2 separate regions of the Homo sapiens genome follow, and region 1 is linked to region 2. Evidence: fine-mapped expression QTL. A gene starts in region 2. The other region holds a variant in brackets. All regions are shown on one strand. Distances are from middle to middle.

Region 1 (5,368 bases), 29 kb before region 2:
GTGAACAGAGGTCAGAGGCTCATGGAGGAGCCTAGGATTGGGCCGCTGGGAGTTGGGGTGACTGGCAGGTGACCCTTTTCTATGCTGGTGGGCTGGCTGAAGACATCCCTCCCACTGGTTTCTTCTTTTGGGTTTTAGGTGGGAAAGTATGTTGTTATTCATTTTAGTGTGGCAGCAACAGAAATACATAATCGTTATAGTAACAGCAGGCATCAATTACGTGCTTAATATGCATCAGGCACCGTGAGAGGTGACTTCATAAATGAGCTCATCTACTTACTAATTACTTTTCCATGGCATGGAGATTTGTGTAGGTTTCATGGAGAGGCAATCCTTGCTTCCTGACCTAATCCTGATTTGCCTAATTCCTGGAATCTCTCAGAGTTCTGGGGTCCACCAGAGTTGGGGCCACCATCTTCTCTGACTGTTATGAAGGGCTTATTGTACATAGGTAGGGAAACTTCAAAGGTTACCAGGGCATGTGTCCTTTGAACTGGGAAGGGGAGCCTGATTTTTCCAGAAAAAGGATGATGACTGGTTACTCATCTGTTTTTTTTTTCTAGCCCTAGTTGTGAACATACTAACCTGTTTCTATCTTCACCCTAACCCTTTCCCACAGACATCGCAAAAGAGTCCCCAGTCACCAGATGTCCAGTCCTCATTACCCCTATTATTCCTTGCCTCTGAGAAGTTGTGCCCAGTAGTTTGTTTTGAGCTGTCCAGGCTGACTGCCCAAGCCCTACTGCCATGGACAGGGGGAGCAGAAAAGAGGAAGAGACACACTGGGAAATAGCCACCCTTTCTAGTTCAGTTCCAGATGGGATGTCCCTGATGCCACCTCTGCCTGAGAGATGTTTCTCAAGCTGTCGCCTGGGATGTTGTGGTTCCCCCCAAAGCCCTCTTCACTCTCACCCGGAAGGACATTTCCACGTTCTCCCCTCCCCAGATCTCCATCTGATTATCATAGGTACCGATGTGCTCAAAGTAGGACTTGGAGATGGAGAAGAGGCCACCAGCAAACGTCGGGGATCTGGAGAGACAGAGGGAGAAGTGTGTGCATCTTCTGGGAGAGGAGGAGCGGAGCCTGGCGGGGAAAGCTGTTTGTGGACTCCCCTCCTAACCCACCTCCCCCTCCTTTCCTCTTTCTCAGGACGTGCAGCCCCTCATCCACTAACTCACTCATCATTTAGCTTTTACTATGTCCTCTTCCCCTTCTAGGACCAGGTCAAGGAAATATGTAATTATCCTCTAAAAGGCACTCATTCATTCGTTCAACCTAGGATGCACGTAACACTGGCCACCAGGGCCCGTGCTACATGATGGACACACAGAACGGAGAAAGACAGATCCTATTCCCCCAGAGCTCAATCTAGTCACAGAGGTTAAAGCTACCATTAGTTACTTTTTGGCAGCAAAGTGCCTGGAGCCTAGGAGATACTCAACTTTCAGAAGCTGTGTGAAATTGTTTTTGAAAATAGGCAGGATTCAAACCATGAATAAATGAATGAATGAATATTGTCAGCTGGGCTGACTCCATTCTGTTTCAGGGCCCCTGCCCCTCAGGGACTATTAAGCCACAGTTTTAGTAGGCGCCTAGCCCTGGTGATTTACACTGCATGAGAAACTGTAGATTTGGGGAGAAGTTGCCAGTTGCTTTTAACAGAGAAAGCTGATAAAAGGTGCTCCTGGAAACAGTGGAAGGTCAGGTGAGATCAAGCTCAATTTGGGCTACAGGGAACATTTAGAAGGTTATAAAAAGATTCTGGCTTTCAGACACAGGCAGGGAGGTGTGGACTCAAGATAAGATAAATTGACAAAAACATCTAATTCCTAGAATTTAGATACCAGGTTGCTTCGAAGAGGGACTGGGCTAAGCGTTAGGGTATCGAAGCGGACCCGGGGAAGTATAAGCAAGATGGAATGCTGGGGTGGGGGCCGGTGAGACATGGCAGGAGCACAATCATCAGCTGCTGGTTTCTGTTTGGGCCAGCCTGGCATGGCTAGGGCTTTGCTGCCCTCAGTGGGCAGCTTCATGTGGTACAACCAAGCAGAAAGATACAGAACCCCTGTAACCCCAGAACCTATCTAGGTGCCTTACACACAGCTGGGGCCCAATCACTGTTCATTCGCATGATCCATCAAGGTGCCTACCCAGGAATGTGACCCTGGTGTTACCCTGTGGTTGCTCTTGTCTACCTGAAGTTGGCTCCTGCAGCCACTTTCTGGAAGGAATTTCAGTCGTGCTCAGGCTGGCTTCCTATCACTTTGGAAGAGGCTCTGGCCTCTCCCAGGGGTCTTAAACCGGCACAAGTAGCACCCTGAGAGGCTCAGAGAGTGCTGGAACTGCAGAGGAGCACTTGGAAGCCAACCTGCTTCCTCCCCCACAGGCCCTGAGTCTTGTCTTTGAGAAGTCTCCCAGACCGAGAAGTCACTGATGGATTAGCCATGAGGACAAACCCTGCATGGGAAGCTTCACTGTAAATTCACAACCACAGGCAACCTCTAGTAAACACCCTTTATGTCCTGGCCTACCCCTAGAATCCCCCAGGTCCTCTGCCTCTCCTCTTAGGCTCTGGTTGGCTTGAGATGGGAGGCCGGGAGGGGACTGTCAGCAGTCCTCCTGGGGTGGGGGCGCTACATGAAGAGCCTCGGCAAGCCATGCATGCTACCGGGGCA[T/C]GTGGGCCAAGGAGCACATTCATTCCTCAAACACTGGAGCTTTGTCTTCCAGTTGTATGGCCCTTGGACATTGAAGCCTGCGACGTCAGTGATGGGTGGGGGCCAGGTGCCCTCTTTCTGACTGTGCTGCTGTGTGCCTGGTCACTGGCATGGGGGTGGGGGTGGGGATCTGTTGCAGTGCACACCAAACAAAAGGCAGCTATGAAACAAACATTGGGTCAGTGGAAAGTTCCAATTTCTTTTCTCTCTTTTGCCTTTTCCTTTCCCTCTCTCCTTCTAATGGAGACAGAGCAGCTGGCTGTTCAGGATCTGTGGGATTTCTCCCTGTGGCATTCACCTGAGTTCCTTTCTACTGGGACTCTGAGCAGGTTTTTTTTTTTTTCTTTTTCTTTTTTAAGAGATGGGGTCTTGCTATGCTGCCCAGGCTGTTGTTAAACTCCTGAGCTCAAGCAATCCACCTAATCCACCTCAGCCTCTCATCTAGCTGGGATTACAGGTGTGGGCCACTGTGCCTGGCATGGACAGCATTTTTTAGGATTCTGGGCACGTGGAGAGGAAGAAGCACCAATCCTTTCCTCCTTTCAAACCTTCCCTCTTATCTCTGGCTACTGTATCTCCAACCTCTGCATCCCTCCGTCCTGGATGTATATTCAGTTGAGCCTTAAGTATACTGGCCAGTCTAAGATAACAATGACACAAATAATCCCAAACCACAGGCTACACTAAAAGTCACTCCTCAACTTGGTTTGTCTGAGACAACTGTTAAAATAAACTTACAGTCTCCAATAACACCAACAGGCTGCCTGGAGAGGGGAGGATGGGGTGAGTATAAGAGGGAAAGGTGAGCCCAGTGGGCATTAAACTGTGGGTTGACTTCCAATTGTCTACCCTGCAGCTCAGGGGCTGGCACACAAGAGCCTGTGGGCAAAATCTGGCTGCCTGGTTTTAGAAGCCTCTGGGGCAAAAAATTATTTTTACATTTTTTAATGTTTGTAAAAAAAATAAAAAATAAATAAGATGAAGAATATGCAGCAAACTATATGTGGCTGGCAAAGCCCAAAATATTTATCATCTGGCCCTTCACCAAAGAAGTTCAGGGCAACTGCTACAAACTTCACGCTGCAGAAAATGTGTCTGTTTTCTTTTAGTATATTCTCAGTCTTTTCAAAGACAGTCACCTGGGGGCACATACCACTCCCTCTTATTACAGTGACTATTCCACAATGGCCTCCATCACATCTCTTGCCCCATCTGCAAGCATGGGCCACTCCTTTTATGTGTAGGGAGGAATAAACTAAAGAATGTATAGCCCTTAGTTCAGTGCCTGGCACATGGTAAGTGGTGAATAAGAGCAAACTGTCATGGTGAATAAGAGCAGTGCCACGGTTAGGGCCAGACAGTCCGGGAAGTGTGTCCTTGCTCCACTGTTGCTAGCTGCATGATCTTAGGTCAGTGTTTATCACTATGAGCCTTAGTATTCTTAGTATTGTACCTGCTTCATAGGGAGTGAGGATTAATCACAATATGTCAAGTGCTTGATAGAGCACCTAACAAATGTTGATGTGAGATGGCACAGGTTCCTGGAACTGGGTAGGACTGGGGCCAGGTTGGGGGCTCACCAGGCTGCGGTCCTTACTTGATGGGGTAGGTTTCATCCTTGCGCCTCTGCTTCTCATGTGGAGGAAGTGTTTCCCAGCCGAAGGTCAGGCTCCAGTCAAAGTTGCCTCGGCTATGGACTCTGCCCCTCTGGACGGGCTTGGCGAACTCAAAAGTATTAAGGTCGATGGTGACGATGTCTGGGCTCACCACCACTGTCTTGTCCTCAGCGATTCGAGCCAGGAGGGGCTCCAGCCAGCCGTGGAAGCACTCACCTGCAGGCCCCAACCAGGAGGCAGCAGTCAGGGCCCTGCCCACAGCAGAGCCCAAGCTGCATCCTGGAGGGAATGCCCAGGAGGATAAGAGACAGTCCACCTACTCCTGGGTTACAGGCAGCAAGCCCCACAGCTACAGGGAGCACACAGAATTTCCTAAAACCCTTCTACCACCCCTCTACCCCCAAAGGCGGAGGCAGCTTTGGCAGGGAGAATGGAGGTCTCAGGGGAGTAACATGGTCAACTCAGATGACCCAAAAGCACAGGGAGGCCCTGGATGGTATCTTCCGGGGTTCCAGCCGATCCATTGGCCCAGCCCTCCGGGCCCACGTGTGGATTTCAGAAGAGGGTGTTCCCCCTCCCAGGGGCATCCGCATGTCAAGCTTCAGCCCTAATTGTAGAAGAATAATCTCTTTCATTTGTCTAGCTCCTTGAGATTTTCAGTGAGCTTCTGCACGTATTATTACTTCATTCGGCCCTCAGAGTAATATTTCTGTTCAGTAAGGTTAGTATCCTCATTCCTATTTTATAAATGAGGAAACTGAGGCTGTTAGTGGGGCAGGGTCAGAATGCAAACCAAGAATTCTGACTCCAAGACTAGAGCTTCCCCTAATATATATCACCACTCCTAGGGAAAATATTTCATCCTCCACAACAGTGGGGAAGTGTTTTGGTTTTGGGCAAGAAGGAGGCCTTCCTGGCTCCATGTTGCCCTAGAAGAAAGCCCCAAACAAGCCAGTTCTGTCATAGCAGGAGGCCTCTCTGAGGGGCCAAGCTCAGAGCAAGGTGCAGATGGGAGTACAGGGAGGGATGAATGTCCG
Region 2 (5,368 bases):
GGACTGGGTTGCTTTCTTCCTTCAAATCTCTACCTAGGCCTTAGGACCAAGTTGTTCAGGGTACGAGAGAATAAGCTGACCCCACAGGGCTGTCAGGTGCCACAAAAGTCTTCTAACAGTCCTTCTCCTCCCTGGAGTGAGCTCACCCTTGTTCACCACACAGGCCTTTTACACAGCACAATTACAACATTGAGCTCGACACAGAGACAGGCACTGCCCTGCACTTAACCTCCTGCTTATTCAAATCCTCACTCTCGTTCCTATCAAATGAGAATGAACATTTGGGCTTTCCCAGAAAGGGGCAGAGGACTGTGTAAAGAGCTGAGTTCACCCAAGCTACGGCATGGACACACCCAACCTGGTCTTCAGCATCCCTTCCAGGGCTGAGATGTCGGAACACATCCGTGGGAGCCAGAAAATGTTAAGAAGAATACCATCACCATTTTAAATATTACTGCTTACCATATCAAATCAAGTTACAGTTATCTTCTCTGTTTTACACAGAAGGAAACTGAAGCACAGGGAGGTCAAGTAACTTGACCAAGGTCACACAGCTAGAAATGTGGCAGAGGCAGAATTTGCATTCAGGCCTATGTATCTCCAAAGCCCACTCTCTTAACTATGACATCACATTGTCTTGCATTTGACTGGTGCTTGGAGCTTTGCCAAAACACTTCATATACACCTTCTCATTTGCTCCCCACCCAGGGAGTGTTTATGTGTTTTGGCTAAGATTATATATCGAAGTTAGTGACAGGGCTGAGTCAGCTGCCTGCCTTCATGATACTCACTGCCTCCCTGCACTGAGAGGCCCTCAGCCCTAGGGTTAGCTGCCCCTCCTGGTCCTGAGGTCTGTTCGAGGCAATGGTTGCATGGACTAAGTTCATGCTCATATTTCCTGTCCCCACTTCTTCCAGCTGAACTTGGGCAAATATGTTTCTGACCTCACAGGGCACCTGACACACATCAGGGCCTCCCCTTCTCTGCCCTGAGTTCTTCCATGCTGCTACAGGTAGGAGTCAGCTGTTCCACCCACTGTAGGACTGTGGGCAGCATTACTGAGGTGAGGTCATCTTGAGCAGCCCAGTCTCCTGCACACTTCCCTCTTTCTTTTGAGGGTCTTGTCCTGTTCTCTGCCCTGGTGCCCCTGGAAGCAACTTTCTCTGATTACCTCTGGGTTCCTAAAGTGCATGGCACCATTAAGGAACTGGAGCTAGGGAAATGCCTGCAATGCTACTGGCTCCTGCTAGGCAATTGGAATCAAAGCATATTTCTTTCTTTCTTTCTTTCTTTTTTTTTTTTTTTTTTTTTTTGAGACAGAGTTTTGCTCTTATTGCCCAGGCTGGAATGCAATGGTGCGATCTCAGCTCACTGCAACCTCTGCTTCCCAGGTTCAAACAATTCTCCTGCCTCAGCCTCCCAAGTAGCTGGAATTACAGGCGCCTGCCACCATGCCCGGCTAACTTTTTGTATTTTTTGTGGAGATGGGGTTTTGCCATGTTGGCCAGGCTGGTCTCGAACTCCTGATCTCAGGTGATGCACCAGCCTCAGCCTCCCAAAGTGCTGGGATTACAGGCATGAGCCACCACATGTGGCCGGAACCAAAGCATATTTCAAACCCCTCACCTGACCTGGTTTTCATCATCACATGAATTTCCCTGTCTCATCCTTCTTAACCTTTCCTTTGATGGGAAGGGAGACAGCTCATCTGTCTGGAGCGGAGAATAGGGCCTGTGTGGTGCACACACATCTCTGGTAGAAGGCGCAAAAGTCCTCGAGGCTCTTTGGTGTGTCCAGAACTATGAACCTCACCCAGTGCCTGTAAATTGTGTGTGTGGGCCTGGGGGCGAGCTCAGAGCACAGAGTTAACATCCTTTCTGAGAGTGCTGCAATGGGTTGTCGGCTGCTAGAAGGGGTCTGCTGTAAGCTTTGTGGGCAAACTGACCACCCTCCACCCCCATACACAGAAGAGCCCCATCCTACCCTCTGCAGACGTCTGGGTCTGCGATGATTGGCCCTGGATGCAAGTAAAAGCTGTTTCTCCTTTTTGTCAGCCTGGGAATCTGAACAACTGAGGAAATAGGGAAGTCGGTGACAGTCACAGTCATGAACACCCAGCAGATTCCATTTCCCCACAGCAGGAGGCAGATCCCTTCCCACCCCCAAAAGCCCCCAGGCTCTGGAGGGAATTCAACCAAGCAGGGCTCAGACCGACCTCCACCAGCGAGGCTTCTCCTTGCTGTCCCCTTCTGCTCAGGCGCAACGTGGCAGGGCAGGAGGAAACCTCTCTGCAAGAGTTGCCGTACCAGAGCACATGGGGTGGCCCGATCTGGGGAGACGGGGCACAGAAGGAATGCAGGGCATGGGTGGGTGAGGGGAAGAGGGTGTGGAGCCCTGGCTCTGGCTTGTCCCCCTCTCACCCCTCCAAGTTCCAGAGGTCTGGGCTCCTCATTCATCTCGTAAGCGCCAAGGTGGAGGGGGGTCCTACCGAGGGAGGAGCTACAGGCCACCGCGACCAGCAGAGAGCGAAGGCAGGAGGGACCAGCCTGGCCCAGCCCCTTCATTTTACTGTCGGGGGTAGTGAGGAGGAAGAGGAAGAGGCGAAGGCTGGCGGAGGAGGAGGTGAGAGCGAGGACTCGGCAGAAGCGAGATCCGCCGAAGGGAAGTCCGAGCAGTCGGGGAGCTCAGGGGGGCCCTCCCGGGGAGAGGGTCGCGGGCTCCTTCTGCCGCTTACCTGTCGCGCCGAGGCAAAGCCGCAGCCGCGCCGCGGGGTGGCTCCCGGGTTTCCCCACCGGACGGCCGGGAGGGTGGGACCGGGGCGGGACCTCCCCCAGCTGCACTAACGCGCCCGCCCCGCCCCTCCCTGGCCAGGTGCAGCGGGTCCCGCCGTGTCCTCAGCCTGCTGCGGGCCCGGGAACTCCCGGCGGACCGGCAGAGGGGCGCCCCGGCTTCTCTGCGTCTCAGCCCGCCCCGGGGGTGCGGTCTTTGCGGCCAGGCTTTCAGCGCGGAAAAAGATTGGAGGGTCCTAGTCACCCCAAAGAGGACAGGCATTAGCAGAGCCGCGGGCGGCGGGTGCATGGAACCGGAATGTGCTGCGCGCCAGCCTGGAGCGCTCGGAGCCCGGAGGCCTGCCCCGGAGGGGGAAACGCGGCGGGGCGGCCATGGGCCCCGGGGTCCTGCCCCAGGTTTGCTTCTCATTTGTGCTCCATCCAACAAGAGCTCGTATTCCGTGTGCCATGAACTGTGTCAAGGGCTCCAAGTGCCAGGTATCAGGTGAATCCCAGCCCCAGCAAACTTTAAACCTACTATGATTATTCCGAATGTACCGGGGAGGCAGCTGCTCACACAGCAGAGGGTGTTTCTCAAAGTGGGATCCCCCACCAGCAGCGCCAGTCAGAATCACCTGAGAACTTATTAGAAATTTTGGCCGGGCGCGGTGGTTCATGCCTGTAATCCCAGTACTTTGGGAGGCCGAGGCGGGCGGATCACAAGGTTAGGAATTCGAGACCAGCCTGGCCAACATGGTGAAACCCCGTCTCTACTAAAAATACAAGAAATTAGCTGGGCGTAGTGGCGGGCGTCTGTAATCCCAGCTACTCGGGAGGCTGAGGCCGGAGAATCGCTTGAACTCGGGAGGGGGAGGTTGCAGTGAGCCGAGATCACGCCACTGCACTCCAGCCTGGCGACAGAGCGAGATTCCGTATCAAAAAAAAAAAAAAAGAAAAAAAGAAAAGAAAAGAAAAGAAATGGGCCCCACCGCAGACCTAAATATTCCGAAACTCGGGTTGGGCCCGGCGACTTGTGTTTTAAAAGCCCTCCGGGTGATTTTGTGCATGCTCGACCTTGAGAACCCTGAACAATTAGTGGCAGGGCTGGAATGAGAATCCTGGTAAACCCGCCTCCTAAGCCGGTGTTCGGAATTACCCCGCCAGGGCCCGTGCTGCTCAGTGGTCCTCTCCGGCGCTGCCTCGTGTGCTGCAATCTTTTGGGGCCTTAGCAACAGAGAAGGAGCGCGCATGACTCCAAATAGCCAATAATTTGAAAACTTTCTATGGTAGAAACTTCTACCACTAGTTCAGTTTCTCTTTTGTTTTGATATTTAAATAAATTTGTCTTTCTTTCTTTCTGTTTTCTTCCTCTTTCTGCTGCCCCGCCTCCCTCCTTTTTTCTTTTTTCTTTCTTTCTTACTCTCTCTGTCTCTCCTTTCTCTCTCTCTCTTTCCTTCTTTCTCTTTCTTTCCTTCTTTTTCTCTTTCTTTCTCTCTTTCTTTTCTTTTCTTGCTCTACTGCCCAGGCTGGAGTGCAGTGGAGCTATCACGGCTCACTGCAGCCTTGACCTCCGGGTCTCAAGCTGTTCTCCTGCTTCAGCCTCCACAGATGCATGCCACCATGCCCAGCTAACTTTTTTTTGTAGAGAGGGAGTTTCGCCATGTTGCCCAGGTTGGTTTCAAACTCCTGGGCTCAAGCCATCCTGTTGCCTCGGCCTCGCAAAGTGATGGGATTAGAGGCATGAGCCACCGAGTCCAGCCATGAATTTGTATTTCTAAGACCCTAAGACCTGGGAGCAGGAGCATGAGTGAGTAGATCCTAGCAAGAAGTTCTGACACGCACTGGGAAAGGCAGGGAAGCCAGCCGGGTGTTAACAGGTGAATGAAGAAAGTAATCTTTTTTTCTAACCTGAGACTCCAAGGTAGGTTTGATCTATTCAGAAGGTGAGATGTTCTTTGATGGAGTCAGGAGAGAAGGCCAGCAGAGTGTGGAGAAGAAGAGTTGCCCAGCTACACATGATCAGAGTGACGTGAAGGATGGACATTCTCCCAGGAGTAGAAAGGGGTTCATCTGCTCACTCTTGGCATGATGCCCGACTCCCCTAACTCTAAGCAGCCTTCCACCAACTCCCTTCCTTTCACATTCCAGGCCGTGGGCTTTAAGCTCCTAGAGAGACTTTCTACAGAGCTTCCTTGAGCATCCCTTAGCCCATCTGTAGACCCTCTGGACTCTGATTCCACCTCACTGCCCCAGCTGCTTCTATTCTTGTCATGTGCCTTACTTGACAGCTGTCTTTCTCAGAATGAGGGCACTTCCTGTGGAAGATTGTGGGATGCTGCCCCTCATGTCTCTCTTCTTGGGGCTGAACACTCCCTGTACAGGTCGGACCTACCGTCTTTGCTCTGTCCTTCCTCCACCTCTGCCCTTTGACCCTCAGGGGTTGTGTGATCCTGACGTGAGTCTTGCACCTTAGTCAGGACCCAACCTAACCTGAGGTGAATGGCCCCTATTCCTTCCCAGGACAGGGTCATGGCCATTACCCCCAGCCTGGTGCTCCTGAGAGGGCCGGGCCCAGCTTCCCAAGAAGTAGCAGCAGTCTG

What was found. PIP is the estimated chance that this variant, and not a neighbour inherited with it, causes the effect.
Region 1: its variant is fine-mapped to the expression of GALNT6 in whole blood (INTERVAL, PIP above 0.99).

What each region holds. Positions count from the first base shown.
Region 1 is chr12:51,359,809-51,365,176 of GRCh38, forward strand. GALNT6 (polypeptide N-acetylgalactosaminyltransferase 6) reads right to left here. Exons shown (of 12, transcript NM_007210.4): 6 at 4,313-4,547; 7 at 913-1,030. Among named protein-coding and RNA genes, the nearest start is that of CELA1, 16 kb to the left of the region's middle. The variant T/C (reference allele first, on the strand shown) is at 2,677.
Region 2 is chr12:51,388,867-51,394,234 of GRCh38, forward strand. It overlaps GALNT6 (polypeptide N-acetylgalactosaminyltransferase 6), which reads right to left and starts at 2,540. Exons shown (of 12, transcript NM_007210.4): 1 at 2,421-2,540; 2 at 1,984-2,071. It also overlaps a transcript of SLC4A8 not described here. RefSeq lists enhancers at 666-755, 1,717-2,302, 2,303-2,887, 4,931-5,020 and a silencer at 2,573-3,112.